2 separate regions of the Homo sapiens genome follow, and region 1 is linked to region 2. Evidence: fine-mapped expression QTL. Tissue or cell type: whole blood. Region 2 holds a variant in brackets; the other region holds the start of a gene. All regions are shown on one strand. Distances are between the middles of the regions.

Region 1 (8,001 bases), 27 kb after region 2:
AATTGAAAAAGTAAATCAGCTTTTCAATACCTAGATATTAAAAAGGCAGTATCAAATGACCTTACAGGTGAAGAATCCTTGTAGTTAATTCTCTGCAGAGCTACCTGGCAATGGTAGGGCATCTGTGGGCCTAAGTGCCAGATACTTCACAGACACTTGTTGTTTAACCCTGACAGCCCTCTGCAAGGTTCACTTCATGTCCCTCATTTTACAGGTGAGGACAAGAGAGGCCCTGGGGTTGGCAGGCAAGCCTGCCCAGCCCCAGCCTCCACATTCTCTTCCCTCCCTTTTCTGCTAGGCTTTCAAATTCAAAACAATAAACACACAGCAATGAGTCTAATTTTCAAATGCTAGTAAATGTGGGCGTTATTGTCTATGAGCACCAGTGTAGTCAACCGTCACTCATTCTACAAATGTTTACTAGCTCTACCGCGTGCTAGGCACTGTTCTAGGGACCAGGATACAGAAAAGCAAGAGACAAGGTGCCTGTCCACAGGGAGTTCACATTCTAGTGGTGCAAAGTCTGACACTGACCAAATACACCAACAAACATCATTTCATACCAACCACTTATGCAACGGGGTTTACGGAATGTGGTCAGAGGAAGCCTCTCTGAGATGAACAGTTGAGCTTAAGGATCAGAGAAAGAAGCAACCACATGAAGCTCTAGAGATAGGGCTCTCCAGCCCAGTGAGCAAGGAGAGCAGAGCCTGAGGTGGGAACAGAAGGAGTTAGGATTTTATTCTATTAAGAAATCCACTGTTGGGTTTGTTTTTTGAGGCAGGGTGTCACTCTGTCACCCAGGCTGGAGTGCAATGCCACAATCACGGCTCACTGCAGCCCTGACTTCCCAGGCTCAAGCCATCCTCTTGACTCATCTTCCCAAGTAGCTGGGACTACAGATGGTCACCACCAAGCCCAGCTAATTTTTTAATTTTTTGTAGAGACCAGGTCTCATTTTGCGGCCCAGCCTCAAACAATCCTCCGCCTCAGCCTCCCAAGGTGCTGGGATTACAGGCATGAGCCACCACACCCAGGCACTTTCAGGTTTTAAGTGCGGTAGAATCTTGCTCTCATTACAGTTTGAAAAAGATCACATTGACTACTAGTAGAGAACAGACAGTAGGGAGGGAAGACTCAAGATAAAGGCAGGCTAATCCAGATCTAAATCAAATCCCTGAGCAGTCACCATGAGGACACACTATGAAATACCAGAGACTTCATAGTGACCTAGACACTTAACAATTTTCTTCATTTCATAAGACAGCAACATTACCAGTGGGGAGGGGCAGGGGAAAGATGCAGAGCAATCTGGAACAATCCTGAGATCCCAGCCCCTTGCTCTCTTACGGTACTTCGTTCCCTCCACCTAGTGACTAGAGTTGGTCTTTCCACATCAGTCTCCTGCACTAAGCTGCTGCAAGCCTCCTGACTCACCAAGCCACAGAATGTGACAGCCAGAAGAGGCAAATCCACCCATCCAGTCCCCTTTTTATGGGGTGACTGAGGTCTGTAGAGGTCAATAACTTGCCAGGTCTGCGTGCCCTCACATCTCCCAGGCACCTCATAGTATCTTGCACATAGCAAGCACTCACTACTTATTTTCAGGTTGGCAGAACAGCGTCAAAGAGAGAAAAATGTGTCTATATAAACTTGTCAGAAAGCAAATCATCAACACTGTTACACTCCCCAAATCAGCTGATAAAACCATGTTATGCAAGACACCAACACAATTTAGTTACTGACTCCACTGGGAAATTAATCCCTATGTTTCCAGAGCAATTCATTCAAACCTTTATGATAGGAAGTCCCACAATGAATTGTCATTATCTCGTTATTTCTGAACCATTCTCGAGCCAGATTTGGGCCAGGAAGCAATCCACTCGATGCAAACAGCTGAGGATTTCAAGCCAGGAGGACATGGGTTTGAATGTGAGGCAGTCACTCATTAGTTGTGTGATCTTAGGCAAGTTACTTAAACTCAATGTACCTCAGTTCCCTTACAAGTTAAAGCCACCTATCTGAAAAGGGTCATAGAAGGGTTTAAATTAGATAAGGTACATAAAATATTTGGCATGGCATCAAATTTAAGAGGTATTTAACAAACAAGATGTAGGGTAGGGACCTTGTCTCACTCATCCTCCTATCTCCAATGCCAAAAACAGTGCGCCTGAGACCTGCCAGCACCATCTTGCACGGAGATGCACTGCAACAGTCTTCAAATTTGTCTGTGTCAATCTGTTCTTACACAGCAAACCAGAGAGAATTTCCTGAATCACAAATCACAGCAAGTGCCTCCCTTGTTTAAAATCCTTGAATGAACAAAATACTGTGCGCAAAATCAGGTACCAGAGACATTCAAACAAAAAAGACATGGTCCCAGCTGAGCAATTGTAATCTATTATGGCGACATTCCTATATATACTGTATCGTGTGCATCATGCTGCTATAAAATCTAAGCAGCTGGTAAAGCCATGTGTGTCTCCTGACCACACCCCAGCTCAAAAAACATTAATGGCCTTTCATCATCATATAATTTAAAACTTTCATTAGCAGTACATTAATACCTGGTCCCACGTGCTCCACAAACGCTGCAGCCACTAAATACATGGATTAGGCACCCTGTGGATGTACAATGAACATCCACCGACTCAATCAATTAATTGGCTCCTCCTGACAATCAAAACAGAGCTCCAGCTCACCCTTCCTTCACAATTCCATCATTGGCAGCCATGGAAGACCCATGACTACCACACAAATCTCACCCTTACAAGGCTTCCTGATCCAGGTTTCCACCACCACCATGAAAAAGCTCCCTCAAACCTACCCAGGAATCTCTCTTCCTTCAGCAGCTCTCCTAGCAAGATCCCAAACCTATACAAATTCAACGCTGGCTCTAAAGCACTCTATTACTTTCAAGGCACCACAATAAGCCCTATGTAAAGTGGGGGAAGGAGGTGCCACCAGAAAGGACCTATGTGACCGTGGGCAAGTCACTTAATCTTCCTGCATCACAAATGGCTCATCCTGTAAAATGGGTAAAACAGTATCTCTGCACAAAGTGGTGGTAAGGATTAAACAAAAATCTACATGAAAACACTTAAGCAAAAGGCACATCACGTCCTAAGCTTCCCTCTGTGCCAAAAACTGTGCTAGGCACTTTGACGCACCACCACAAAGGGCACATCTGGATGTGTAGCTCTGGACCTCAGGGAGAAAGTGTAATAAAGAGGTTAAGAGCCTAGACACTGAAGTCCCAGGTGGGGGTTCAGCCACTTGCTGGGCTGCATAAGACACTCCGCCTCTCAGAGTCTCAGACCCCTTATTTGTAAAATGAAAGTAATCTCTCTTGCCAGGCGCGGTGGCTCACACCTGTAATCCCAACACTTTGGAGGCCGAGGCGGACAGATCACTTGAGGTCAGGAGTTCGACAACAGCCTGGCCAACATGGCGAAACCTCGTCTCTACTAAAAAATACAACAATTAGCCGGGCTTGGTGGCGCGCGCCTGTAATCCCGACTACTCGGGAGGCTGAGGCACGAGAATCGCTTGAACCCGGGAGGCGGAGGTTGCAGTGAGCGATGGTGCCACTGCACGCCTGGGCAACAGAATAAAACTCTGTCTCAAAAAAAAAAAAAAAAGGAAGAAGAGAATCTCTCTTAAAGACAGTGTTAGTATTAAAAGACACAAAGCCACATGGAGCACTTAACAGTGCTTGACACAAAACAAGTGCCCAACTAACAAAGAGCTGCTATTATCATTACTACTGTTAGAGACATGCCATCGGAGAAGCGGATGCCCGGCCTAGCATAACCTCCCTCAATGGGCCCCAGGATCCTCATCCCCAAAATGGGGCAGAGGTCAAGCTCTGCCCTGCAGCATCCGAGGGCAACTGTGAAGTAGGGACTGAACTAGCACTGTTGATACCATCCCGTTATACTGTCCTCCTGCTCATCATAATGTGGATTCCTGGAGAGCAAATCTTTGTTCCCGGGAAAACAGCCAGGGTTTAGCACGGTGCCCAACACCTAGTGGGCATTCAATAAACACACACTGAAGAAAGGAGGGAGTCCAAGAGCTGGCTTACTTTCTGCCATACATCGCGCTAAGAGTTTAATGTGGGTAGTATTACTGTCCCCGTTTTACAGATGAGGAAGCTGAGATCCACAGCGGTTAAAGCACCTGTCCAAGGTCACACCGCACGGAACCCAACCCAGGTCTGACTCCACCACCCGATCTCTCGGCCCTCAGGCAACACGGCCTCCCACAATGTGCGTCCCCAGAGCTCCCAGGACGGCCCACCTCGCCCACACCCTCCCAGGGCCCAACCACCCTGGGACCTCCAGTCGCTGCAGCGCAGGGACCACACCTCAGCGGCGGCCCAGAAACCCCCACCCCGCGTAGCAGCAGCCCACTTCCGGCCCGAGACCCCGCCCCCTGAGCAGAGCGCAGCGCGCGCCCCCAGGCCCAGCCCGCGCGCGCCGGGTGACGGCCCCGCCCTTCCCCCACCCGGCTCGAACAGCACCGCCGTGTGGAACGGCCCTGGCGCTGCCCGTAGGGCCTGCCCGCGCACGCCCGGCCTTGGCCCACGCGGCCGCCCCCCCAGCCGCACCCCCCGGGCCCGCTAGCCGGCTCACCGGCTCTCGGCAGAACCGCGTCCACTGCCCGCAACCGGCTCCGGTTCCGTCTTCGTCTCGTTCAAACCGCCAGACCCCGCCCGCCCGCCCGCGCGATGACCTCACACGCACCCCCTCGTTACGCGCCGACGTAAAGGCTCGCCATCCTCCGCCGGCTCCTTTTATAGAGAGGGTCTCAGCCGCGCGCCGGGGGCGGAGCTCGGCCCCTGATCCACAGAACGGTAGCCGAGGGGCGGGGCCCCGACCGCCGGGGCGACTGCGGCACGTGGTCGGTCGCAGCCAATGAGGTCCCGCCTCGGCCCGGTGTGACTCAGTTACAAAATCCCTATGGCAGTAACCAAAAAGAAAATTGCTTTTACAATGAATTTTTTTTTTTTTTTGCTTAGAGATGTATGGAGGTCTCGCTGTGTTGCCCAGGGTGGTCTCGAACTCTTGGCCTCAAGCGATCCTCCCGCCTTAGCCTCCCAAAGCGCTGGGATAACAGGCGTGAGCCACCGCTCCCAGGCTTACAATTAATTTCTGTAAGAATGGGTTATTGAATCATAAAGATACCTAATAGACACTTTGGGGAAACGCTTAGAAGTCAACTTTCTGGGCCGGGTGCAGTGGCTCACGCCTTTAATCCCAGCACTTTGGGAGGCCCAGGTGGGAGGATCACCTGAGGTCAGGAGTTTGAGACCAGCCTGGCCAACATAGTGAAACCCCATCTCTACTAAAAATACAAAAATTAGCCTGGCGTGGTGGTGGGCGCCTGTAATTCCAGCTACTTGGGAAGCTGAGGCAGGAGAATCACTTGAACCCAGGAGACGGAGGTGGCAGTGAGGCGAGACTGCACCACTGCACTCCAGTCTGGGCGACAGAGCAAGACTCTGTCTCAAAAAAAAAAAAAAAAAGTCACGTTCTGTGACGCCCCCGCCCCCCCATCTGCAATATCATGCGGCATATTTTCTTCTTAGTACCATAAGAAGGCATCTTGTGCCTTTACTGTCTGTCTCCTGTAAAGTCCACAGGAGCAAGGACCTCCTGAGTCCTGTTCCGGGTTGTTTCCCAATGGCTGTACATACATTCTCTCTTGCCCACTCCCTCTTTTTTTTTTTTTTTTTTTTAAGAGATGGGGTCTTGCCATGTTGCCCAGGCTGGGCTGGTCTCCTGGGCTCGAGAGATCCACCCGCATCGGCCTCCCAAAGTGCTGGGATTACAGGCGTGAGCCACCACACCTGGCCCTTACATTCTCAAGAGAGCCTTGGCTGAAGGAGGAACTGGGCTGGGCGTGGTGGCTCACACCTGTAATCCCAACACTTTGGGAGGCCAAGGCGGATGAATTACCTGAGGTCAGGAGTTGGAAACCAGCCTGTCCAACATGGCGAAACCCCATCTCTACTAAAAATGCAAAACTTAGCCGGGCATGGTGGTGGGCGCCTGTAATCCCAGCTACTTGGGAGGCTGAGGCAGGAGAATCACTTGAACCTGGGAGGCAGAGGTTGCAGTCAGACTTCGTCTAAAAAAGAAAAAAAGAGGAACTGCACCACTTTACAGCAGAAAGAAACTGAGGGACAAAGAGGCCAATTGACTCACTCAGTGTCAGAGGTAGATCCAGATTTCAAGCTGACTTTTTTTGTCTGGGTATCATTTATTCAAGTATTCAACAAATATTTTCCCTGACCAATCAGGCCCTGGTGAAAAAAAGACACAATCTGATCATGGTGGTACGTGCCTTTAGTTCCAGCTACTGGGAAGGCTGGGGCAGGAGGATCGCTTGAGCCCAGGAGTTCGAGGCTGCAGTGAGCAAAGATCACGCCACTGCACTCCAGGCCTGGGAAACAGAGTGAAACTCCATCTCTAAGAGATAAAAACGAAAACTAGACACAGCTTCTGACCTCTTAAAGTTTCCAGACTGGCAGGGGAGGCAAAGGGGACACAACTAATGACACAAATCCTTGTTAAATTACAAATCAGGCTCAATGCTAGGCAGGGACATTATGTGGTGGGCTGATGGTACTTCCACTGTGTGGAGCAGGGGCCTAGAGGTCCCTCTAGGCCAAATCTCACCCAGTTAGTTGCTGAAACCCAGTAAGACGTTCAGGGAAGAATGGGTGGGGAAGCTGGGGCAGGAGCTGTTTATCAGCAGGTCTAGAGGCATTTCAATACTTCGGTCTCGAGTACTGCTCCAAGAGCACACCACAAGAGACATGACCTCTCCTAGGTAGTGTGGAAAAGCTTCCCAGAAATGACACTTACCATGAAAGATGAGGAGTTACCTTGGCAAAAGAGTTTGAGCAAGGCCAGTTGTGGTGGCTCATGCCTGTAATCCCAGCACTTTGGGAGGCCGAGGTGGGCGGATCACGAGGTCAAGAGTCTGAGACTAGCCTGACCAACGTGGTGAAACCCCGTCTCTACTAAAAATGCAAAAATTAGTTGGGCGTGGTGGCGCGCGCCTGTAATCCCAGCTACTTGGGAGGATGGAGCAGGAGAATTGGTTGAACCCAGGAGGTGGAGGTTGCAGTGAGCTGAGATCGTGCCACTGCACTCCCGCCTGGGTGATAGAGCAAGACTCTGTCTCAAAGAAAAAAAAAAAACAGAGTTTGAGCAAAAAAAGGCAAGAAAAGCCAGGCGCGGTGGCTCGTGCCTGTAATTCCAGCACTTCGGAAGGCTGAGGTCGGCAAATCACGAGGTCAGGAGTTGGAGAACAGCCTGGCCAACATGGTGAAACCCCGTCTCTACTAAAAATACAAAAATTAGCTGGGCATGGTGGCGGACACCTATAATCCCAACTACTCGAGAGGCTCAGGCAGGAGAATTGCTTGAACCCAGGAGGTGGACGTTGCAATGAGCCGAGATGGCACCATTGCACTCCAGCCTGGGCAAAAGAGCAAGACTCCAACTCAAAAAAAAAAAAAAAAGAAAAGAAAAAGAAAAAAAAAGAGGCAACAATAAAGAATAAAAAACCATGTAACAAATGATTATAGCGACAGCAGTAATATGAACATTATGGTGAGCTGATGTCAAGCATAGATAATCAACTAAAGATATTTATAAGTGCTTTGATGCAACATCTGTTACCTGTATTTTATTTATTTATATTCTTTTTAAAAAACGAAGAAACAGAGACACTCTGTCGCCCAGGCTGGAGTGGAATTGTGTGATCTCGGCTCACTGCAACCTCCGCCTCCTGGGTTCAAGCCATTCTCCTGCCTCAGCCTCCTGAGTAGATGGGATTCCAGGCACACACCACCATGCCCGGCTAATTTTTGTATTTTTAGTAGAGACAGGGTTTCACCATATTGGCCAGGCTGGTCTCAAACTCCTGACCTCGTGATCCGCCCACCTTGGCCTCCTAAAGTGCTGGGATTACAAGCGTGAGCCA
Region 2 (8,001 bases):
ATTTCTAATAGCATATAATTTTATAAGGGAGAAAAAAATGGTGACAATTTTAGATTATTTTATAGATTAAGATCATGTTAACTGACTTTGAAACATACTTTCAGGGCTGGGTGCAGTGGCTCACACCTGTAATCCCAGCACTTTAGGAGGTCAAGGTGGGAGGATCACTTGAGCCCAGGAGTTCAAGACAAGCCTGGGCAACATAAGGGGACCCCATCTCTACAAAAAATACAAAGTTTAGCTGGGCATGGTGGTGCATGCCTGTAGTCCCCACTACTCACGAGGCTGAGGTGGGAGGATCGCTTGAACCCAAGAGGGCAAGGCTGCAGTGAGCCAAGATCATGCCACTGCACTCCAGACTGGGCAACAGAGGGAGACCCTGTCTCAAAAAAGAAAGGAAGAAAGAATCACACCTTCAGAAAAAAAAAAAAAAAAAATCTCCCCACAGTCATCTGCCAAGCACTGTCCTGCTATATTTCTCAGAAGGAAATGCCCTGAAAAGGCTTCACAGCAGATAGGCCAGGCCTTGGACTTCCGAGAGGAAAAACCTCTTACAGCAACGAGAATTTTAAAAAGCAGGAGGCTGTACAATATAATGTGAATGAAGAAAAAAGAAGTCAGCTTAGAAATAAGCACATCTGACCGAGCACGGTGGCTTACGCCTGTAATCCCAGCACTTTGGGAGGCTGAGGTGGGTGGACCACGAGGTCAGGAGTTCAAGATCAGCCTGGCCAAGATGGTGAAACCCCATCTCTACTAAAAATACACAAAAATTAGCCGGGCGTGGTGGTGGGTGCCTATAATCCCAGCTACTTGGGAGGCTGAGGCAGAGAACTGTTTGAACCTGGGAGGCAGAGGTTGCAGTGAGCCGAGATCATGCCACTGCACTCCAGCCTGGGCGACAGACCAAGACTCCATCTCAAAAAAAAAAAAAAAAAAAAGAAGAAGAAGAAGAAATAAGCACATCTGAAAAATCAGTAAAGGATGTGAAAAGATCAGTCCTCACTGAAGAAAGAAGCACTGGTTTCCCATCACTTGAACCTAACAGCATATACCCAGGGCAAGACAAATTTCAGAAGACATGATACTCTTGAAATACAGAATTTTATTTAGAAACTGTTTAAAGTAGAAAAAAACCCTGTCAAGAAAGACCAGGTGGAAAATGGGTTCCCAATAAAATGGAATTTTAGGGCAACAAAAGTCTAAAAGGCCACAAAAGAGAAATAGCACCACTGTCATTTGAACAATGGCTAGTTACTTGCATTTTTTGGCATTGTTAATCACTGAATCTGGGTTTTCCTCTGAATTCCACACAGAGCATGCACTACACAACATTTTTATCATAAAATACTTGCTTTCTACACACATTTCAGGACAAGCTACCACCAGAAACAAATCAATACAAATACATCAGGGGCTGAACAATCTCAGTAGTGGGTGAGACACATTTTGCAGAATCCTGCCAAACAAAGGAACTGAATAGGCTGTGGGCAAAGCAAATGAGGGAGAGTTAAGGAATGAAGTATTTTAAATATTAATAATTAATTCAGACACGGTACTGTATTTTCCGCAAAAGAAAATTAACATTTAGTAACACACTAATGAATTTTATCTCCAAAGAGATTAGTGCACTGGCAAAGTATTCGGATTACAGTGGAGAGCTGTGAACAGCAGATACCGAAAACACCCCAGCCTGGCAGATCCCAAGGTAACGATGGCCTTCACTGACCACTCCCTTTGCCAGAGGTCCAGAAAGAACTTGCAGCATGATCACCTGCCTGCTGCACTTCCAACTCTAAGCAGCAAACTTCAAGGAGCCAAAGAGGAGTCCCCAGTGGGCAAGGGGAGCAGAGAAGAGAAACGTGGTAAATGTAAACCTAAAAGACAGTAAAATGGGATACAATCCCCATTCAAATCCCAGAGATGTGGGCAAGTCCCCAAAAGTAGTTGTTAGATTAAAAAACTGGGCACACCTCACTTCCCCAAAAAATATAATACATAGAAATTTCGGGGATAACTGGAAAAATAGAGAAATGCTCAATGAAAACCAAGCTCTTCAACTGTAACATCTCAGGGCTGAAACACATCCTCTATTATCCAGGCAACGATGCCTCTTGCTTTTTAGCTGGGATGCAATTGGTCAATGACACCAAATAACTTTACAGGGCAACTTTTTAAATGTTCCTTTTAGACCAAAGCCTAGGCCTATGAGGGTTCAAGCAGCCCTGTAAGACCTGTTGACAGCAGGTTCCAAAGGTTCCAAGGTCTGGCCCTTCCTTCCCAGACACAATGTCAAACGCAAAATCTCTTGTCATGTTACATTTTATATTTTGAAATGTGGAAGCATATTTTAAATACTCTTAAGGCATTTACTTATTACAACATTCTCTGATTTCACATTAGCTTAAAATTCAATTCAGTCTTTACATTTCTCCACTGAGGTCGCCACCTCAGCATATTACATAACATCTCTCCAGCATTCAGTGTGACCCGCATCCGCATGGTGAGCCCCACGGTCAGCCTCTCTGTTTTCCAGGTGAACCAACTAGGTGTTAATACTGCTCTGCTACAAGGTAAAAGCTCCTAACTCAAACTTATTGGAAAAGGAGTGAAACGTCTGCAAAGTGCACTTTAAGAAGAGGTACTTTTTGCTTATGAAAAGAAACCAGTGAGTCCTCTAAGGATAACAAAAGGGAGTATTTTACAGTTAAGCACATGATTTGGAGTGAAGAATTCCGATGTTGCTCTGCTGGTCCAGGCTGTTAATACTCTTCTTGCTCCTCCTGTGGGCCCCCTTCATCAGGTATCACAAAGCCTTCCTGAAATAGGAAAATGAGAGGGGAAAGCCACTGAAAGATCCATTTCTACTGTGAGTTCACTTTCCTCATACTTACAGCCTCTTAAAAACAATGGTTCTTCCTGGCTCTATACAGGCCAGGTGACTGCTATTTTATTTCTTGGGTAGTAGAATTGCATCTCACCAAAGACAAAAACTGAGCACAGTCAAATTTACCCTCAAACTTTTGAAAGTGATGCATATTTACATTGTCTTCATTATGGTGGTAATTTCACCCATGTCATCAAAGGTACATTTTAAATATGTGCAGTTTATTATGTCAGTTATACTTCAATAAAACTGTTTTTTAAAGAAGAAAGAAGGCCAGGTGTGATGGCTCATGCCTGTAATCCTAGCACTTTGGAAGGCCAAGGCTTGAGCCCAGAAGTTCAAGACCAGCCTGGGTAACACAGTGAGACAATGTCTCGAAAAAAAAAAAAACTAGCCAAGCCTGGTGGGACATGCCTGTAGTCCCAGCTACTCCCCAGCGGGGTCGAGGCAGGACTGCTTGACCCAGGAGGTCAAAGCTGCAGTGAGCCATGATCGCACCACCAGGCACTCCAGCCTGGGCAATAAAGTGAGATCCCCGTCACTAAAAAAAAAAAAAAATTTCCCTCAAAAATTCCTGAAGTCCCCTGTAAAGTTCAGTACTCTAACATCTTCTCTCAATAAACTGTCTATGCAGCCAGCTTTCCTTTTATGCCTTCCTTTTGTTATACTTAGGAGCCATGCTTTACCCAAAATATTCACAACAGCAAGACTGACCCAACATCAGTGGCAGAAAAATTGAGTGCACAAGGAAAAAGCAGATTCATGACTCCCACACACCTCATTCTCACT[A/C]CAGGGCATTCTGGCATGGACTCAGAGCAGGAAATTACTATACTATTCTGCTGTAAAATCAGACTTCTCTTTCAACCACCATCTTATTTCTATTAACTAAATCTCTATAGCTGAACTTACTTAAGATGTGGCTCCACTAAAATAATACTCAGACTAAACCAAGGACCCCCTATATCTTCGTTGTCTTTTTTTCATTACATAGCACAGAGCAAGCTCTAAATTAAAGATTTATTCAACAGATTATCAACTTTTCAGTCATCTGTCTTAATCCCCTGAAATTCACAAGATATGTCTCAAGGACAGTGACAGTAACAGCATTATTACTACCTTGTATTTGCATAGTGCTACACATACTACCAGAAGTTTGTAGTTTGATCCTACAGACCTTGCTAGGCACACAGAATTACAAACATCACCATTAAACAGTGGACACAGCCGGATAACAATCCTAAATCTAGAAAAAAATGAGTCTTCCCTGATCAACTAACATGTCGTGATTAATATCAACAGATTTGACTGTGCAATAAACATGGATCCAAAGAAACTTGATCATAGAGTACTTTGAGGGAGTGAGAACCAGGCAAACTCCTAGGAGGGAGGAGAAAGGCATACCCAGACATGACGTGATATGTGGGCACGCCGTGAAAAAGGGAGCATGTGCCTGCTTTTCCGGGCATGCCCCGGGCCCTGATAAAATGGAGGCAGCAACTGAAGCTGAGGGATCCAAGCAATAGGAGGTGGGGTGGAGTGAGGACATGGGTTGCTTCTGGCTAAGAGCAGTTTGTGGCACTCATCACCTATCAGTGGCCACATACTACAGATGCTGGGCAAGCCAGCCACCTCCTTGTCCTATTCCTTCTTCAAAAGCTCACAGACCTCAGGCAGAAGCTAAAGCTGGGCAGAGATGCCCTCTGGCTGACTTTGAGGGGTTAAAGATGAAGTCTTTTGATGAATGCAACACTGGAATACAACAAGCATCAGCACAGAGTTCACCAACCCTTCTATGTAAAATGGAAAGAAAATATCCTCATGTCAAACACATACATCTGTGGCATACAGAATGTCTACAATCCTCTGCAATACAGGGTCGTTTTCCCCCTCGTTCTCCTGGCAAATCAATTCAATGTTCCGTAGCTTTCCGAAGTAGAAATCCCTCTCTTTCTCCAAGTCTTCAACAGTAAGTTTCAATACGTTGACCTGCACAAGACATTAAAAAGGGTGAGATGCTTGGCATTAGTATGGCAATAAAATATCAGGCAGACTTCTAACCCAAAAGGAGATGTGGTCTTTGATCAAACCCCAACACAGACAAAAACCACATCAGTTTAATGTCAATTTTCTTCAGCCTCAGATAAACAACATGGATTTGTTTATAGCAACCTTGACGGTAACAGCTCCCAGAAAGAGCAGACTACCCCTTGAAACATGTAGAAGCTTCTCAGGGACTGAAAAAGGATTAAGGAGAAAAAACTAGGGAAGCCTGAGACAATTACAGCCTAGCAAGGTAGCTGACAATCATAAACTGAGTCCTTACCAAGGGACTGGACAATCAAGTCCAGGTCTGATTGCATGAGGGGGTCAATAGAAAGGACCCTGGAAAGGGCTCAATGGAACTCTTTGGAAGCCCAATGGAAAGTGCTCTGACCCTCCATGAGCCCCACTGAGGGTCTCTGATTCCCATTAAGAGGCTATGAAGAAATCTGTCTCAGTCCTTAGGCCAGGACTCTATCTAGCCAAGACCAATAAAAGTTATAACACTCATAGTCCTGTGTGTACTTTAACCATGGGGCATCTTCATTCCAGTGTACTGTATTCACATCTATGACAAGTGAATTCCATTTAACTGTCAATGAATGCAAGTTGCAAAAACCTGTATTTACAGGTCAGGGCCACAGAGCAGCATGGAAAGTAAAGCAACAAAATCAAAGGTACAGCCACTGAGAACGACCTCGGCAGAAGGGAATTCTACAAGCCAGAAGGGACCAGAGAAATCATCTAGTCCAGCCTTCTGAACTCACAGCCACAAAAACTGAAGCATGTCAGGTGGAGTGGCGCACGCGTCTCAGCTACTCTAGAGGCTGAGTCGGGAGAATTGCTTGAGCCCAAGAGTTAAAAGCCAGTTGTGACAACATAGCAAGGCTCCATCTTTTTAAAAAATAAATAATAAAAATTTAAAAACAGAAATAAACAGCTTATCTAGCTTCCCCACAGCCTGATGAAGACACCAAACACAACAGAGGAGATCAAGTCTCATCCCAGGAGAAAGGACCCTCTTTATAACCTGCAGTCAAAAAGCATCCAGAGATGAGGATCAGGTGACACCACCAGGACAATTTTATCAAAACGAATTTCAAAGTTCATCATCAAAGTCTTGTTAGACCAAACCAGAATCACAGTTCTAGACAGCCTTTCACTATTCCTTTACCAGCCGCAGAAATAAAAAATAATTGAAAGTTTCAATAAAGTACTAGAGGGGCCAGCTGCCGTGGCTCACATCTGCAATCCCAAAGCTTTGGGAGGTCAAGGTGAGAGGATCGCTTGAGGCCAGGAACTTGAGACCAGCCTGGGCAACATGGCAAAACCTGTCTCTACAAAAAAATCTAAAAATTAGCCAGGTAGGGTGGTGTATGCCTATAGTACCAGATACTTAAGAGGCTGAAGCAGGAACATTGTCTGAGCCCAGGAGTTCAAGGCTGCAGTAAGCTATCAATGGACCATTACACTCTAGTCTGGGAGACACAGCAAGACCCTGTCTCATTCAATCATTCATTCATTCATTCATACATACATACATACATACATACATACATACATACATACATACAGTACAGCTACTGCCTGGTGGCCGGCAAAGCTAAATCATCCATTTTCCCTCACTGTCCCCACCTCTGCTTTTGCTGCAGTTTGCTGCCTTTCCTGAAACCAACAGCCCCAAAGAGCAGGGGATACACAGGCCAAGAGCCGACCAGCCCCAGCGGGAAGCAGACTCAGAGCTACAGCTCCACAATCCAAAAGGCAGGGAAGGGGCCTTCTAATCACATGCCTGGTGGCATTAATGACCAAGGAAGAAAGGAAGTCGAAAGAGCTTATGAAAAGGAATGCTGGCCAGGCGCAGTGGCTCACGCCTGTAATCCCAGCACTTTGGGAGGCCAAGGCAGGCGGATCACGAGGTCAAGAGATCAAGACCATCCTGGCCAACATGGTGAATCCCCGTCTCTATAAAAATATAAAAATTAGCTGGGCATGGTGGTGTGCACCTGTAGTCCCACCTACTCAGGAGGTTGAGGCAGGGGAATCACTTGAACCCGGGAGGCGGAAGTTGCAGTGAGCTGAGATCACGCCACAAAAAAAAAAAAAAAAAAAAAAAAAAAAAAAGGAATGCTAGCTTGGTATCCACCTAGTTTCACTAGTTTCACTAATGCTACCCTCTCAAACCCTTTAAAACCTTCTCTGTCCAACAAATTATCAAGGCCAAACCAGATACCCAGCCTTCTGGGTCCCACCTATAAAGGCCAAAAGTTGCATCTGTCCATGATATTGCTCATAACTATACACACATAACAAACACTAAATCACTAAAAAAATATATACTAAGACACTGGCTTTCACGTGGCACTCCTTTCAAGTCTGTATTCATGAGGTTATTAAAAATCTGTGGCTTGGCCAGGTGCAGTGGCTCACATCTGTAATCCCAGCACCTTGGGAGGCCAAGACGGCCAGATCACCTGAGGTCAGGAGTTCGAGACCGGCCTGGCCAACATGGTGAAACCCTGTCTCTACTAAAAATACAAGAATTAGCTGGGCGTGGAGGCAGGCACCTATAATCCTAGCTACTTGGGAGGCTGGGGCAGGAGTATCATTTGAACCTGAGAGACAGAGGTTGCAGTGAGCTGAGCTCACGCCACTGCACTCCAGCCTGTGTGACAGAGCAAAACTCCATCTCCAAAAGAAAAAAAAAAAAAAAACCTGTAGCTAGTAATTAAGGTCACTCTTAGAACCTTATCTTGAGGTAAAGCAATAGTTATAACCTAAGAAGCCCCAAGTCAGTGTTTCAGGCCTGCACTGGCCACAGTAGCCATCAACCACATGTGTCTATATAAACACTTAAACGTGGCCAGTGCCACTGAGATGAGCTACAAGTATCACATACACACCTGATTTCAAAGACCTAGCAGAGTCTTCAAATGTAAAACAGCTCATTGATCATTATTTATATTTGATTATATGCTGGAGTATTATTTTTTACATATTAGATGATGTGTTGCTAAAATTAATTTTACCTATTTCTTTTTATTCTTTTTAATGTAGCTACTAGACCATGTAAA

The links. PIP is the estimated chance that this variant, and not a neighbour inherited with it, causes the effect.
Region 1: MAPRE1 starts here. The variant in region 2 is fine-mapped to the expression of MAPRE1 in whole blood (INTERVAL, PIP above 0.99).

Annotation. Positions count from the first base shown.
Region 1 is chr20:32,816,665-32,824,665 of GRCh38, reverse strand. It overlaps MAPRE1 (microtubule associated protein RP/EB family member 1), which reads right to left and starts at 4,712. Exons shown (of 7, transcript NM_012325.3): 1 at 4,638-4,712. RefSeq lists enhancers at 2,994-3,663, 3,664-4,333 and a silencer at 4,406-4,995.
Region 2 is chr20:32,843,490-32,851,490 of GRCh38, reverse strand. MAPRE1 (microtubule associated protein RP/EB family member 1) reads right to left here. Exons shown (of 7, transcript NM_012325.3): 6 at 4,721-4,873; 7 at 1,086-2,819. The coding sequence ends at 2,763. Among named protein-coding and RNA genes, the nearest start is that of EFCAB8, 11 kb to the left of the region's middle. The variant A/C (reference allele first, on the strand shown) is at 3,677.